4 linked regions of the Homo sapiens genome follow. The protein of the gene in region 1 interacts with the protein of each later gene in a pairwise test. Each region holds a gene or a part of one and is shown in the gene's direction. Other genes may lie near its edges.

Region 1 (3,500 bases):
GGCGTGGTGGTGGGAGCCTGTAGTCCCAGCTACTCGGGAGGCTGAGGCAGGAGAATGGCATGAAGCCAGGAGGCGGAGCTTGCAGTGAGCCAAGATCAAGCCACTGCACTCCAGCCTGGGCGACAGAGTGAGCCTCTGTCTCAAAAAAAAAAAAAAAAAAAAAACTTGCCTGAGTTATTTTCCTTACTCTGTTCTATTAAATGTTGACAGGCTTTTGCATTTGTACTAACATTTGCATAGTAGACAACAACACTCTAAATTGAATCGGCTGTCATTATGATTAAATCCTTTCCGACCATGGTGAATGAAGGGAAAACCACCATTGTTATATTTCATTTCTTTTCTCCTAAAGAAAGCAAATTTATGTGTCGTTAAAATGTGTATAGATTCTTCCAAAGTAAGGGTATTTGACAACTTTGAAAAGTTTATAGGCTAACATTTCATTTAATATACCACTAGGTTTTCAGATCTAGGATTTGAAGTGAAATGCTTTAATGATCTTAAAGCAGAAGAACTACTGCTCAAAATTCATGAGGGTAGGTAGTTTTGCTATCATATAGTTCATCTTCCTCTAATGAAACCGAGTCCTTTATCCTATCTGTAAAGACAGGTACAAGTAATTACTTGTGTGACAAAAAAAGTATTAATTTAGCACAGGTTACAGGTTTTGGGTATGCTGCTGTGTTTCCGTTACCCAGCACATTTAGAGACCCTTGCAAATAATTATGCCTCTAAAGTTTATATTTAGCATACCACTAGTTACAGTCTCTTGTAGAAATGAATGAAATGACCCCTTCAATTGGCAGTAAAAGCCTAAAATGCAAGTACTACAGGTGCTGGGCAGTCAACAGGCTCATTTTCTCATTGACTCCTTTCATGCCTCATTTTCTCACTGGTTTCCAAATAGTGTTGGTTTACATACATTACCTCCTTTAATTCTCACAGCGTCAATAGGGGGTAGGTATTCTAATTATAACAACCTATATTATAATCATCGCTGCATGCCAACCATTATATTTGCATAATTACTTTAAACTTTCTTCAGAGCTCTTCTTTAAACTGCACATCATTCTAACTTTGGCTGCTTTTACCAGCTTTTCTACTTTGCTCAGAAGCTTTGGAGGACATCAGTCTCATGGCACCGCACCTGGCTTTGAGTACTCTTTTGGAAGCTCTAAGTGCTATAATCTTTTTTTTTTTTTTTTGAGATGGAGTCTCGCTGTCCGCCCCAGGCTGGAGTGCAGTGGTGTGATCTCAGCTCACTGCAGCCTCCACCTCCTGGGTTCAAGCAATTCTCCTGCCTCAGCTTCCCAGGTAGCTCGCCCCCATGCCCAGCTAATTTTTGTATTTTTAGTAGAGATGGGGTTTCACCGTGTTGGCCAGGCTGGTCTTGAACACTGGCCTCAAGTGATCCACCTGCCTCGGCCTCCCAAAATGCTGGGATTCCAGGCGTGAGCCACTGCGCCTGGCCCTAAGTGCTGTATTCCTATAGTGAAAGTGCAGCAATGCGTGGGGAGCTGTTGAGCAGCAGTTTCTGGGTCTTTCCACTCTGCTCTAAGGTCTCTGCTGATTCAAGGAAATTTTTAGTTTATTGCCAAAATAACTTGGATCTTAAGTGAGATTCCCTATCGTAATCCCTTTATGTTTTCCACATCATTCTGTGTTTTAGAAAGGCTAATGAAATTTGGTCAAACTCTATTACTCTGAACTTTAATAAATTTGGATTTTTTTAAAAAAATAAGATACAGTACGGTATATTGTTTGATTAAAGACTAAGTTGTTTCATCACAGATATTTTACACTTATTAAAGAGTAGGCCGGGCATGGTGGCTCATGCCTGTAATCCCAGCACTTTGGGAGGCTGAGGCGAGGTGGATCACCTGAGGTCAGGAGTTCGAGACTAGCCTGGCTACATGGCAAAACCCCGTCTCTACTAAAAATACAAAAATTAGCTGGATATGGTTTCAAATCTGTAATCCCAGCTACTTGGGAGGCTGAGGCAGGAGAATCGCTTGAACCCGGGAGGTGGAGGTTGCAGTGAGCCAAGATCGCGCCACTGCACTCCAGCCCTGGGCACCAAGAGTGAAACTCTGTCTCAAAAAAACAAAAAAGACAAAACCACAAATTTTCCTCCTCCCCAATCATGTGGATGTAACTTTATTCTTGTGTTAATAAACTGAATTTTTATGTGTAGATAACAAGCATCATATTTTCATTTCTATATTCTCTTTTGGGTCCTTTATAGTGTCAACTGTTAGCCACGCAGATGCCGATTGCTTTGTGTGTGTCTTCCTGAGCCATGGCGAAGGCAATCACATTTATGCATATGATGCTAAAATCGAAATTCAGACATTAACTGGCTTGTTCAAAGGAGACAAGTGTCACAGCCTGGTTGGAAAACCCAAGATATTTATCATTCAGGTAAGACTGAGTACATTATCATCTTAATTATAAAGTCTGTCATTCTGAACATGTGATAAAGGTCTAAAAGCCAGTTTTGAAAGTAACTTTCTCCAGTAATTGGACAGGCCGTTTTTGAATTCTGGCCAATCATAGTTGCACTTTGAGCTGTTAGTAATAATTCTTTGACACTCTCATTGTCTATATTACAAAATAACAGCATTTGGATTGAGATTTGAAGTGACTCACAAAGTAACCAATGTGCTACTCCCTGTCCGAGCCTGATACCAAGGAGAGCCATTGGAAAGCGTACCTGCTGATTGAAGAGTGCCGCACAAGGCAACCTCATCAGACTAGGTTTGCTTCTTTGGGAGGTGGAGAGCATATAAACCAGTGGAAAGAATGGAAAAATAAAGCCTTCTAGTCTTATCCTGTCTCATCCCTTTCACATTGCCCCTTAAACCAAGATTGTTTCCCCGCTGCCAAATTGGTTTTAGGGATAAAAGTATTTTTTACAGGCGTGATGGCTCACACCTGTAATCCCAGCACTTTGGGAGGCCGAGGCAGGCAGATCACCTGAGGAGTTCAAGACCAGCCTGGCAAACATGGTGAAACCCTGTCTCTACTAAAAATACAAAAATTAGCTGGGCATGGTGGCAGGTGCCTGTAATCCCAGCCATTCGGGAAGCTGAGGCATGAGAATTGCTTGAACCTGGGAGGCAGAGGCTGTAGTTAGCCGAGAGCATACCACTGCACTCCAGCCTGGGCGTCAGAGCGAGACTCTGTCTAAAAAAAAAAAAAAATTTTTTTTTTTGCATGAATATTACTTGGCACATCATTAACGATTTTTTTTTTTTTTTTGAGATGGAGTCTCGCTCTGTCCCCCAGGCTGGAGTGCAATGGTGCAATCTCGGCTCACTGCAACCTCCGCCCCCAGGTTCAATTATTCTCCCACTTCAGCCTCCCGAGTAGCTGGGATTACAGGCACCTGCCATCATGGCTGGCTAATTTTTGTATTTTCATAGAGATGGGGTTTCACCATGTTGGCTAGTGTGGTCTTGAACTCCTGACCTCAGGTGATCTGCCCGCCTTGGCCTCCC
Region 2 (3,500 bases), on another chromosome or scaffold:
TTTTTTTTCTTTAAAGAACTTTACCATAGGGCAGTAATTCTGGGCTGTCATAAACAGTGGTTATAACCATACTATAAGTTTACAAAAATAATAGACTGCTGCTTAATCTTCTGGTACCATGATGTGATTTTTCCATAATAGTGCTTAGGACATGTGTTATGTTGACAATTTAGTTTCAACTAAGAATGAAACGTTCGTACCAGACAGTGGCGCGTGCTGTTGAAAACTGCACTGACATCAGAACTTTCTGTATGCTTTAATACGTATATAAAGCAAAGTGTCATAACGCTGCTTTATAAAACTAAAGACTACTGTGCTGTTGCGTAATAGGTACCTTTCTCTTTAATTCCTAGAGTTGCTCAGTAAATAACTCTCTTGGTCCCCAAAAGTCTGAATACCTCAATTGAACCTGGTGTTTTGATCCTCTTTTCTCTTTCTCTGTTTCTCTCTCTCTCCCCCACCTCCCTCCCTCTCTCCCTCTCTCCTTCAGATGCTGATGGCACCCCTCTAGCAACCTGTAGACTGAAGCTCAGGTCATTGTGACTGACATGCAGAGAATAAATCAAATAATATGCCAGTTTCAAATATAAAAATACAGATTTATGGGATAAATCAGCAGGATTTATAAATGTCCTGAGGTCTAGAAGGTTCTGGAGTTAGTGATGCTCATCCCTTGTTTTGAGATCACAGAGCCAATGATTTTTGTGTTCCATCCATCCTCTTCTCCCAGAAATTATGAAGGTCATCAGACTTTCCCCTAAAGTTCTAGAACAGCTAGTCATTTTTAAATATTGGCTTGAACCACATTATCACCTCCAGGCCATTCTTAAAGCTTCACTTTGTAGGCTGTTTCTGGCATAATATTGTAATCCACTCTGCGTCTACTTTGATTTCTTCAGGTAATACATGAAAAACTTTGGGTAAAGTTTGTTTGTGATGCTATATGAAGACTACTCAAAGATAATTTTTTTTCCCCACAGGATGAATATTCTATCTTTCCTCAGACATACTCCATAGATATTAATGGCTATATTCTTGTGTATTCTGTTACATCAATCAAAAGGTAAGACTCCTGCTGCCTGCTTGAGTTGATTTGCTACTCATAGATAACATTGATCCTTTTAAGGGACTGTGCTGGAATTATTAATAGTGACAATTAGAATTATTAGGCTACATGTTTTTTAGTGATTTTCTCGTGGAGCAACTGGATTGCTGGGAAACATGGCCCACTAGATGTTCTGTTAGTTACACCAATAGGATAAAAGGCTCTTTCTTACCTCAAGCTACCTAGAAAAACAGTGGTTCAGCATGATCTAAGCTTTTCTGCTAATTGAAATGGGAAATGCCTAAATTAATTTTACTTTGTGTGTGTTTTTACCATATTAAGGTGAAATAGACTTTCTAATAAAATGTGGGGGTTTGGGTTTGTTCAATATCTTATCCTTTGAATTTATGAAATAAGACCTTTTGGTAATAGAGTCTGACTTTACTACATAAAAACAAAGCCACTATTTTTATTAATAAGAATGGATATCGGTTCCTCTAGCTACGTATTTCATGTCTCCTCTTATCGGGGGATGGCATGTATTATCAGGAGGAGCAGTGGTCTGTGTCTGTTAACAGAACAGCTGGCTGTATACAGCAGCGGAGCTCTGGGCATTGGTGACAGCTTATGTTTGAAGACTTTATGAAAATATCAGTGCCAGTGGAGGGCGTTTGGTGGCTACGTAGCATCTATTGAGTGTGTGCGACATGTTAGGGAGTTTGCTACTCTCTTTGCCTACATATGATACATTACTTATTTCATCATTACCTTAATCCTTCATCAGAGATGTTTTATATCCCACTTTACGTGGAAAGAAACTGAGTGACAGAGACCTAAAGCAGCTTGCCCAGGGCTACATAATGACATTGCTGGGATTCATAGCCATCTCTCCAGTTCCACAGTCAAGGCTGACACTGTCCAATAGAACTTACTGCGGTGATAGAAGTGTTTGCTCTCTGTGCTGCAGGTGGCTGTTTAACTAAAAATGGAAAATTAAGCCTCCCTCGGTTACAGTAGCCCCATTTCAGGTGCTCAGTAGCCACATGTGGCTGGAGGCTGCCATGTTGGCCAGTGTCTGGGTTCCTTACCCCCACATACTCCACTGCCAGTGAAAATTCAGTCTGCTGCTCTGTGAGTGTGTTGTTTAACATTTTTCTCCGTGGCAGAGAAACATACTTTAGGGTGTTGAGTTCTAGCTATAAAATGTTTGAGTACCATTCTCGGCCATTCTTATAAACAGACCCCATACTGTCAATCCCCGAGAAAGTTTACACCTGAATCAAAACCAAGTACCAGAATTATGTGTTCCTTAAGGAAAATTGAGGAACTGTGAAAAATAGAAAGTGAGGGTAATCATTCTTAATCTAATTACCTAAGCATAGATACTGTTAATATCTTGGTATATGTTTTTTCTGGTCTTTGTTTTAGTCTGCATGGATTGTTTTAACATCCTTTTATTTGCTCTCTGAATGCTGTTTTATGGTTTATATTTTCCATGTTTTTATATTTTTACTTACCATGTAATATATATTTTTCCATATTACCTAGTATTTGAAATAGTAAATGGCTTTATAATATTTCATGTTCAATGATAGATGGATATCTCTCTTCCTGTTTAATGTATTTATTTATATTGTCACTGAAAGCAATGCTTGGATTGGATTTTATGCTTAAAACCACTGTGTACTTAGTATTTGGAAACATGATCATTTTCTTACTGACTTATAAGAGCACTTTAAATAGTAAAACTATTGGCCATTTTTATACAAAGATTTTTTTAATTTCAGTTGTATATTTTTAAAATGTATATACTGCCACGTGTAAGGCCTTGTCCAGAACAAATTTAGTGTACCAATAATCTAATGAATGTTGGAAGTTCATGTTTGTTTATGAATTTCCATTATTTTACTAATTTACTTGAAAAACATGATTCAAAGATTGTTTTGTTGTTGGTAAGTACAATTTTATCCTAGCTGATTTTTAGAAAACAGTGTTGGTGTTACTTTACAAATTGTTACTTTGAGGCATTAAAGTAGTAGGTAGAAAATTTTCTTAGTGCATCCACTGATTTTTTTTAAGTCTCTTTTTTGGTGTGCACAAATTAGATGACATTATAGAATCAAGTTGAAAACATAGCATGTGCCACTGGGGAAATTGAAAAATACATTGAGCTGGATTAAAAATATGAAAGTGTGCTCACCAAGGACCTTATGTATTTGAGAAAACACTGGCCTAGTGCAAAGCAGAGGACAAAAAGCTTGGTACTGTGTCTTCTCAGTGGCACTGTTGCAAGTTTTGACCAAGTTTCTCCTTACTAAAATGGGTGTGTTTTCTTTTGTTATATGCCTTTTACCTCAGTAACTCATAGTTTAATGAGCATTCTCAAATCTCAAACATGAGTGTGAGAAGAGTGGTGTTTTGTTTTTTAGAAACCTATATGCTGAATACACAAATA
Region 3 (2,835 bases), on another chromosome or scaffold:
ATAAAATAGTTAGCACATATTGTGTACTTTCTTCAGTGCCAGGCACTCTTCTAACCACTTTATATGTATTAGCTCATCAGACTCAGCCTGATAATATGAGATGAGTCCTGTCATTATCCACATATTAGATAACAAATCTGAGACATAGAAAAGTAATCTGCCTTAGGTCATTCAACTGATAAAGGATAGAGTTGGGATTTGAATGAGGGCACTCTGGTTTGAGCTTGTAATCATTATATCATAAAGGACATGATGCTTGACTTCTCTTTCTCTCACCCTAATTCAACCTATTGCCAAGTATTGTACATTCTCCATGCTTAAAATCTCTAGGCGGTGTCCCTGAAGTATAAATCCAAAGCCTTCATGCCTGTAATCCGAGTGCTTTAGGAGGCCAAGGCAGGAGGACTGCTTGAGCCCAGGAGTTTGAGACCAGCCTGGACAACAAAGTGAGATTCATCTCTACAAAAAAAAAAAAAAAAAAAAAATAGCCAGGCGTGGTGGCACATGCTGGCTAAAGGGGGAGGATTGCTTGAGCCCAGGAGGTCGGGGCTGCAGTGAGCCGTGATCACACCACTGCACTCCATCCTGGGCAATAAAGTTCAAGCATTTCACTTGGATTTAAGGTTCTTTATAATCTAACATCTACTTCTCTTGCCTTCTTATTAACTCCCCATTCTTGTATTCCTAATAACCAGCCAGTAGAATTAAATTATTTGCATGGGTCCTATCTCCTTTTCCACTAAGCTGTTGCACATTGTTAGAATTCTTTTCTTTATCCCTTTTATGTCTCAGCTTCAATGTCACATCCACTAATTAGAGCATTAGATGGCGCTCTACTGTACTTAACACCTATCACAGCATTTAGGACACTGTATTTTAATTATTGCCTTACTTGTTTTTTAGTATCTCCCACTAGATTGTGGAGGTACTTGTTTCTTGAAGGCAAGGACAGGTTCACCTTCTTTTCTTTTTTTTTCTTTTAGACGGAGTCTTGCTCTGTCGCCCAGGCTGGAGTGTAGTGGCACGATCTCGGCTCACTGCAAGCTCCGCCTCCCGGGTTCACACCACTCTTCTGCCTCAGCCTCCAGAGCTGCTGGGACTACAGGCGCCCGCCACCATGCCCGGCTAATTTTTTGTATTTTTAGTAGAGACGGGGTTTCACTGTGTTAGCCAGGATGGTCTCAATCTCCTGACCTCGTGATCCGCCTGCCTCGGCCTCCCAGAGCTGCTGGTACTACAGGCACCTGCCACCATGCCCGGCTAATTTTTTGTATTTTTAGTAGAGACGGGGTTTCACTGTGTTAGCCAGGATGGTCTCGATCTCCTGACCTCGTGATCCGCCTGCCTCGGCCTCCCAGAGTCCTGGGATTACAGGCATGAGCCACTGCGCCCGGCCAGTTCACCTTCTTAATGTCACTCATATCCATCCCCTTCTCTCTCTCTCTCTCTCCTACCGTACTTTAGGCCCTCATTATCTCTAGCATGGACAACTGCCTTAGTCCATTAACTGTTCCCCCTGTCCCTAGTCCATCCTTTATTTAATCCATACTCAACCCTGCAGAGGCAGATTCGTATAACAGCTGAGTTAACACTTCCTGCTTAACACTTCAGTGGATCTTAGCTGCCTTTTAAAAAGTCCAAATATTTTGGTTCATTACATGAATTTATCTCCTCCCATTTTCTATCTCCTTATTACCTTGTACCTAGTAGGAACTCCATAAATACTTGTTGAATGAATATGGTACTGTGTCAAAGTCAGTCAAGCAGAACCAAGAACAAAGAGGTTAACCAAAGTAATGCAGTCTCGGTTGCGAGGCTTCCTAGGACAGTATAGCCATAGGCTTAAGTGGAAGTCGAAGACTAGTAGTGTAACTCTTTCTCTTAGGAGGGAATCCCCAAACATACCTTACTATTAGATGACTCTTTGTCTTTGCATATGCCTGGAATATGCTCCTCGACCTGGCAAACTTATCAGATTTGGTGACTCAGTTCAAGTATTCCTTCCTCTATTAAACCTCTCCACACCTTTCTAGACAGAATGTAAACTGATTCAACTTTTTGTAGGTTAGTTTATAAACTACAACAAGAGTGATGAAAATATGAAGACTCTTTAATCTAGAATTGTACTTCTAAGATATTACTTAACTAAATGATTTGGGGCCAGGTGTAGTGGCCCATGCCTATAATCCCAGCACTTTGGGAGGCTGAGGCAGGAGGATCACTGAAGCCCAGGAGTTCAAGATCAACCTAGGCAACGTAGGGAGACCCCCATCTCTACAAAAAATTTAAAAATTAGCCAGGCATGGTGGCGCATACCTGTAGTCCCAGCTGCTTCAGAGGCTGAGATGTGGAGATTGCTTGAGCCCAGGAGGTCGAGGCTGCAGTGAGACAATTACAGAGTGATACCCTGTCTTAAAAATAAAAAATAAAAAAGCCTAGCTACCTAGTTATGAACTTTCTTTATTTAGAACCAAACTCTTAACCTCAAGTTATACACTTTAATAATCCATTCTATTCCCAGTTCTTCAACCTGAAGGAAAATTATATTCTAAGAAATAGAATTGGAATAGAATGATTTAAGACCATAAGTAATCAAAATACTTCATTTTCATAGCTAGTATTTTCAACCTTTTGCTGCCTAATATTTCATTAGCAATGGTAACATGAATAATGTGGAAAGCATCCAAACATAGTGAATTTATTCTTAGCCTTTGTATATAAACCTGCATACTCCCAGTTGCCTCTCTCTCTGACCTCAAGGGTTCATCCTAAGTTAATATTGATCTAAATAAAAGTTATGCTGCCAGTAAATCATATATCCCAAAGTCAAACAGG
Region 4 (3,500 bases), on another chromosome or scaffold:
TGAGGGTTCTCACTCATATGTCTGACTGTCAGCTGAAGACCTTGGTTCTTCTCCATGTTGATCTCTTTGCACGGGCAAGTTTTGTCTTCCTCATAGCATAGTGGCTGAGTTTCAAAGTCAAGCATCCAGAGAGAAAGAAAGAGCCAGGTAGAAGCTATATCCGTTAATGACCTAGCCTGGGAAGGCACACAGAGTCATTTCCACCATAGTCACAGGCCTGTCCGCTCTTAAAATCATAATTTTTTTACATTTAAGGAAATATAAATCACAGAAAAGTAAAAATTACTTATGGAATGGCCAAAGGATTGGAACATATGCAGATTTTTTTAATCTTTTTTCCCTTTTGGAAGAAAAATATACCATATCCCAAGCCATTCTTCTTAAGCCTTTGACAACTGGGAATATAACAGAATTGACTTAACATCTGTTGAGCACCTTCTACATGCCAGACTCTGTGGAAGGTGCTGGCAATATATAAAACATAAGTCATACATAAGCTTCTAGATGCTGAAATCTCAGCTCAAAAAACCTGTATTAATCAAACAAGCAATAAATCCCATGAAAAACTTCTCACATAATGTTTATTAATTTGTAGCAAAAATGAATTTCATGCATTCTAGTGTGCCAAGTAATTGAATCCACTAGTGTGGTGGGTAGCCCATTTTGGAACAGAATTCTTCTACTGAAAAACACTTATTTGGAAAATAAACATAAGATTTTTAAAACATAGAAAAATAGAATCACTTTCTCCCCTGAGAGGAAGTTTGTACAACACATACGTTTATGGACCTAACCATCTGAACTTGAGTCTTGTTTTTCCTCTTACCAGGCAACTGTGTGGTCTTTAGCAGGTCACTTAACATCTGAGTCCGTCCCTTCATCTGAAACTGAGCAGTATCATGAATACTACTAAAAACTATTTCCAATAATTTGGCATATTTTAATGCAGTAGTTAGGCTATTTCATGCTTAGGGTTAGCCTGTTTCCTCTTGTTTTTCTAATTCTAGAAACACCATGGCTTGATGTTAGAGTTAGATGATAACTCTACTAGTTAAAATACATATCATACAAAGCAAATAATTTACATGTCTTTGTATAAGTGAGTATTACAAGATATTTCTTGTTTTAAAAACATGACTTTGTTAATTTCCCAAAAGTTCCAGGTAAGCATTTCAAATGGGAAAACTAGGCTATAAACCTGTTAAATATTTCATTGTTAACTAATATACAAAAGGTCCTACACCAAGACAGTGAAAGAGATAGGACAACTTAGGACTAGACTCCCACTCGTGAGCTTTCATGATTTACAGCGTGCTTCCTTCTGGTGTTCTTCATATTAATAAGTGCAAGTCTTGATACTAAGGGCCAAAAACATCATGCCAGTAATCTACAGTTAAGCTCTTTTCAGCTCTGTAGAAATCTCCCTTTTGGCTTGTGCATGGAACTTGGCAGCTCTGTTTTTAGAACTGTTCGAATTTGGCTTACTGCATCCCTCAGAAGCGGCATATGAGCACTTTATCAGTTTATTCGATATTTTAAGATGCATATCAGCATTGTGTACTAGCACTTGGGAGAGATAATAAATACTTTCCACTCTCCACTCCCAGTTCACTGACTTTATATTTGAGTAATCTGAGAAGGATAAATAAATAAAATTTAAGGATCGGAGAGAAGAAAACACGGACCCAAATAATCTACATACAAAGTATTATAAGCAGGGATGGAGATGGAGATTGAAAGGTAGCCCGGGGCAAGAATACCAGGCCTCAAGCATGAGATGTTAACTAGTCCAGCTAGCCATAGACACATTATGACTCTCTTCTGTCTACTGAAAGGATCGGCAAGTCTATCGATCATTATGTCACCAGCTGTTTCCTTCTTTCTTGTCTCTCCTCCACGTGCTCAGACACCACTGTAGTGTTCATAGATCAACATAATCCTACCTACATTCTCCTGTCCCTGGTTCTGATCATAGCACATTTATCAAGCACCTATCCCTGCACTTGCCTTGCTGGCCACAGTTCTGGCATGAGCACAAGCCACATTTATTTGTGGTCTCTTCCGTACTACTCATTGGAAAATTCAAATCTTACAGGCATTTTGCTCCTGCCTTCTTTCTTGGATGGTAGTGGAGATGCTCAGGCCTGTGGTGAGTCAGTTTTCAGATGTAAATTAAAACAAATTTTTGGAAAGCTCCTGGAAAACAGTGCTTACACAGGTATCACCTAATCAGAAGTCAGTTTCTGATTGAGTTAAACATTAGCAAAAGATTAGTGAAAAGCTCTAATCAAATCAGTTTTTTAAATATAATCACATACATAGACTGAGTCTGGGAGACAAAAATGCAACTGTGGAAAAGAATTACTATATAGAGGACTTGCAGAATATCTAGATTATATATTGTAGAAATTAAGATAAAGAATATTTATAAAATATGTGCTAAAGCATCCTGTTAGTAATTATGGTCATCTTAATATGACTGTCATACCATTTGGGTTTACTGTTTGGAAAAAAGTTGATCACAATTACCAAAACATTATATTTAAGTTGTTAATAATATATGAAAAAGTAAAACTTATAGAATTAGGCTTTCATTTCAAAGAACATTGACATTTAAATTTGTTATGATAATTAAGCTATTATTATATAAAGGCAAAGAGCAAGAGTTAAATAGTTGATTAGGAATAAGGAGGTTTAGGTATTGTTAGGAAATAGAGTAAAATAATAAATTTCAGGTTTTAATCAATCAGATTATCAACATGTTGAGAGGTGTTTTCTTTTGCATACATTCTTGAGTTGAGGTTTATTTATGATAGGGTTTTAGGTTTGTTATCACATATATTTAAACTTTACTACCCATCTCACTGTATTATTGGTTTATTTTGTATGTATTCTGAACTCACAGCACATCAAAGATTCAAATATATTAATCAAAAGTAAAACATAGAGTTTTTAACATGCATCTGTAAGTATGATTTTCCTTACTTAGTTTCTGGCATAGGTGAGCATATACAGATAATAATCTTGATCATTATATTTTTTATAATTAAACAATGAAGCACATAAGTAGTAGTAATCATGAGATAATCACATCCCTGGTGTAATTAGCAGGCATAGAACAAAGCCAAGTATCATTAATGCCTTAGAGTATGATTATATTATGATGACTATACCCTGTTGGTTGCCTTAATTTTCACTGTAATATGTGTACTTTTTTAATAATGAGGTTTTTTAAAAATGAACTTTTCTCTTTATGGAATATCTATTAATAGACATACTTTGGAATAGTCGGTAAAGTTTACTTATAGTTCAGTAGTTGTTGAAATTTTTCTCTGAGTTCCATAGTTTTGCTTCTCTCTAGACCATATCCACATCAATATACAATAGTCTAAAGAGGTATAAAAATAAGTAAATCAGTATCTTATCTGACTATTTGGAAATTTACAAGGACTAGAATTCAATAAAAATTCAATTAAATTCAATTAAAAAAACAACTAAGA

Evidence for each region. The genes of interacting proteins can lie anywhere in the genome.
Region 2: the proteins of CASP6 (region 1) and RHEB interact in binary tests that used the Homo sapiens proteins (3 or more experiments, as listed by UniProt).
Region 3: the proteins of CASP6 (region 1) and LIPT1 interact in binary tests that used the Homo sapiens proteins (3 or more experiments, as listed by UniProt).
Region 4: the proteins of CASP6 (region 1) and TMEFF2 interact in binary tests that used the Homo sapiens proteins (3 or more experiments, as listed by UniProt).

What each region holds. Positions count from the first base shown.
Region 1 is NC_000004.12:109,693,446-109,696,945, reverse strand, and holds part of CASP6 (caspase-6 isoform alpha precursor), read left to right. Parts: intron 1-459; coding exon 460-536; intron 537-2,245; coding exon 2,246-2,421; intron 2,422-3,500.
Region 2 is NC_000007.14:151,474,896-151,478,395, reverse strand, and holds part of RHEB (GTP-binding protein Rheb), read left to right. Parts: intron 1-980; coding exon 981-1,063; intron 1,064-3,500. UniProt on the Homo sapiens protein: Small GTPase that acts as an allosteric activator of the canonical mTORC1 complex, an evolutionarily conserved central nutrient sensor that stimulates anabolic reactions and macromolecule biosynthesis to promote cellular biomass generation and growth.
Region 3 is NC_000002.12:99,157,967-99,160,801, forward strand, and holds part of LIPT1 (lipoyl amidotransferase LIPT1, mitochondrial precursor), read left to right. Parts: intron 1-330; exon of another isoform or gene 331-446; intron 447-2,835. UniProt on the Homo sapiens protein: Lipoyl amidotransferase that catalyzes the transfer of lipoyl moieties from lipoyl-protein H of the glycine cleavage system (lipoyl-GCSH) to E2 subunits of the pyruvate dehydrogenase complex (PDCE2).
Region 4 is NC_000002.12:192,184,934-192,188,433, reverse strand, and holds part of TMEFF2 (tomoregulin-2 isoform 1 precursor), read left to right. Parts: intron 1-3,500. UniProt on the Homo sapiens protein: May be a survival factor for hippocampal and mesencephalic neurons. The shedded form up-regulates cancer cell proliferation, probably by promoting ERK1/2 phosphorylation.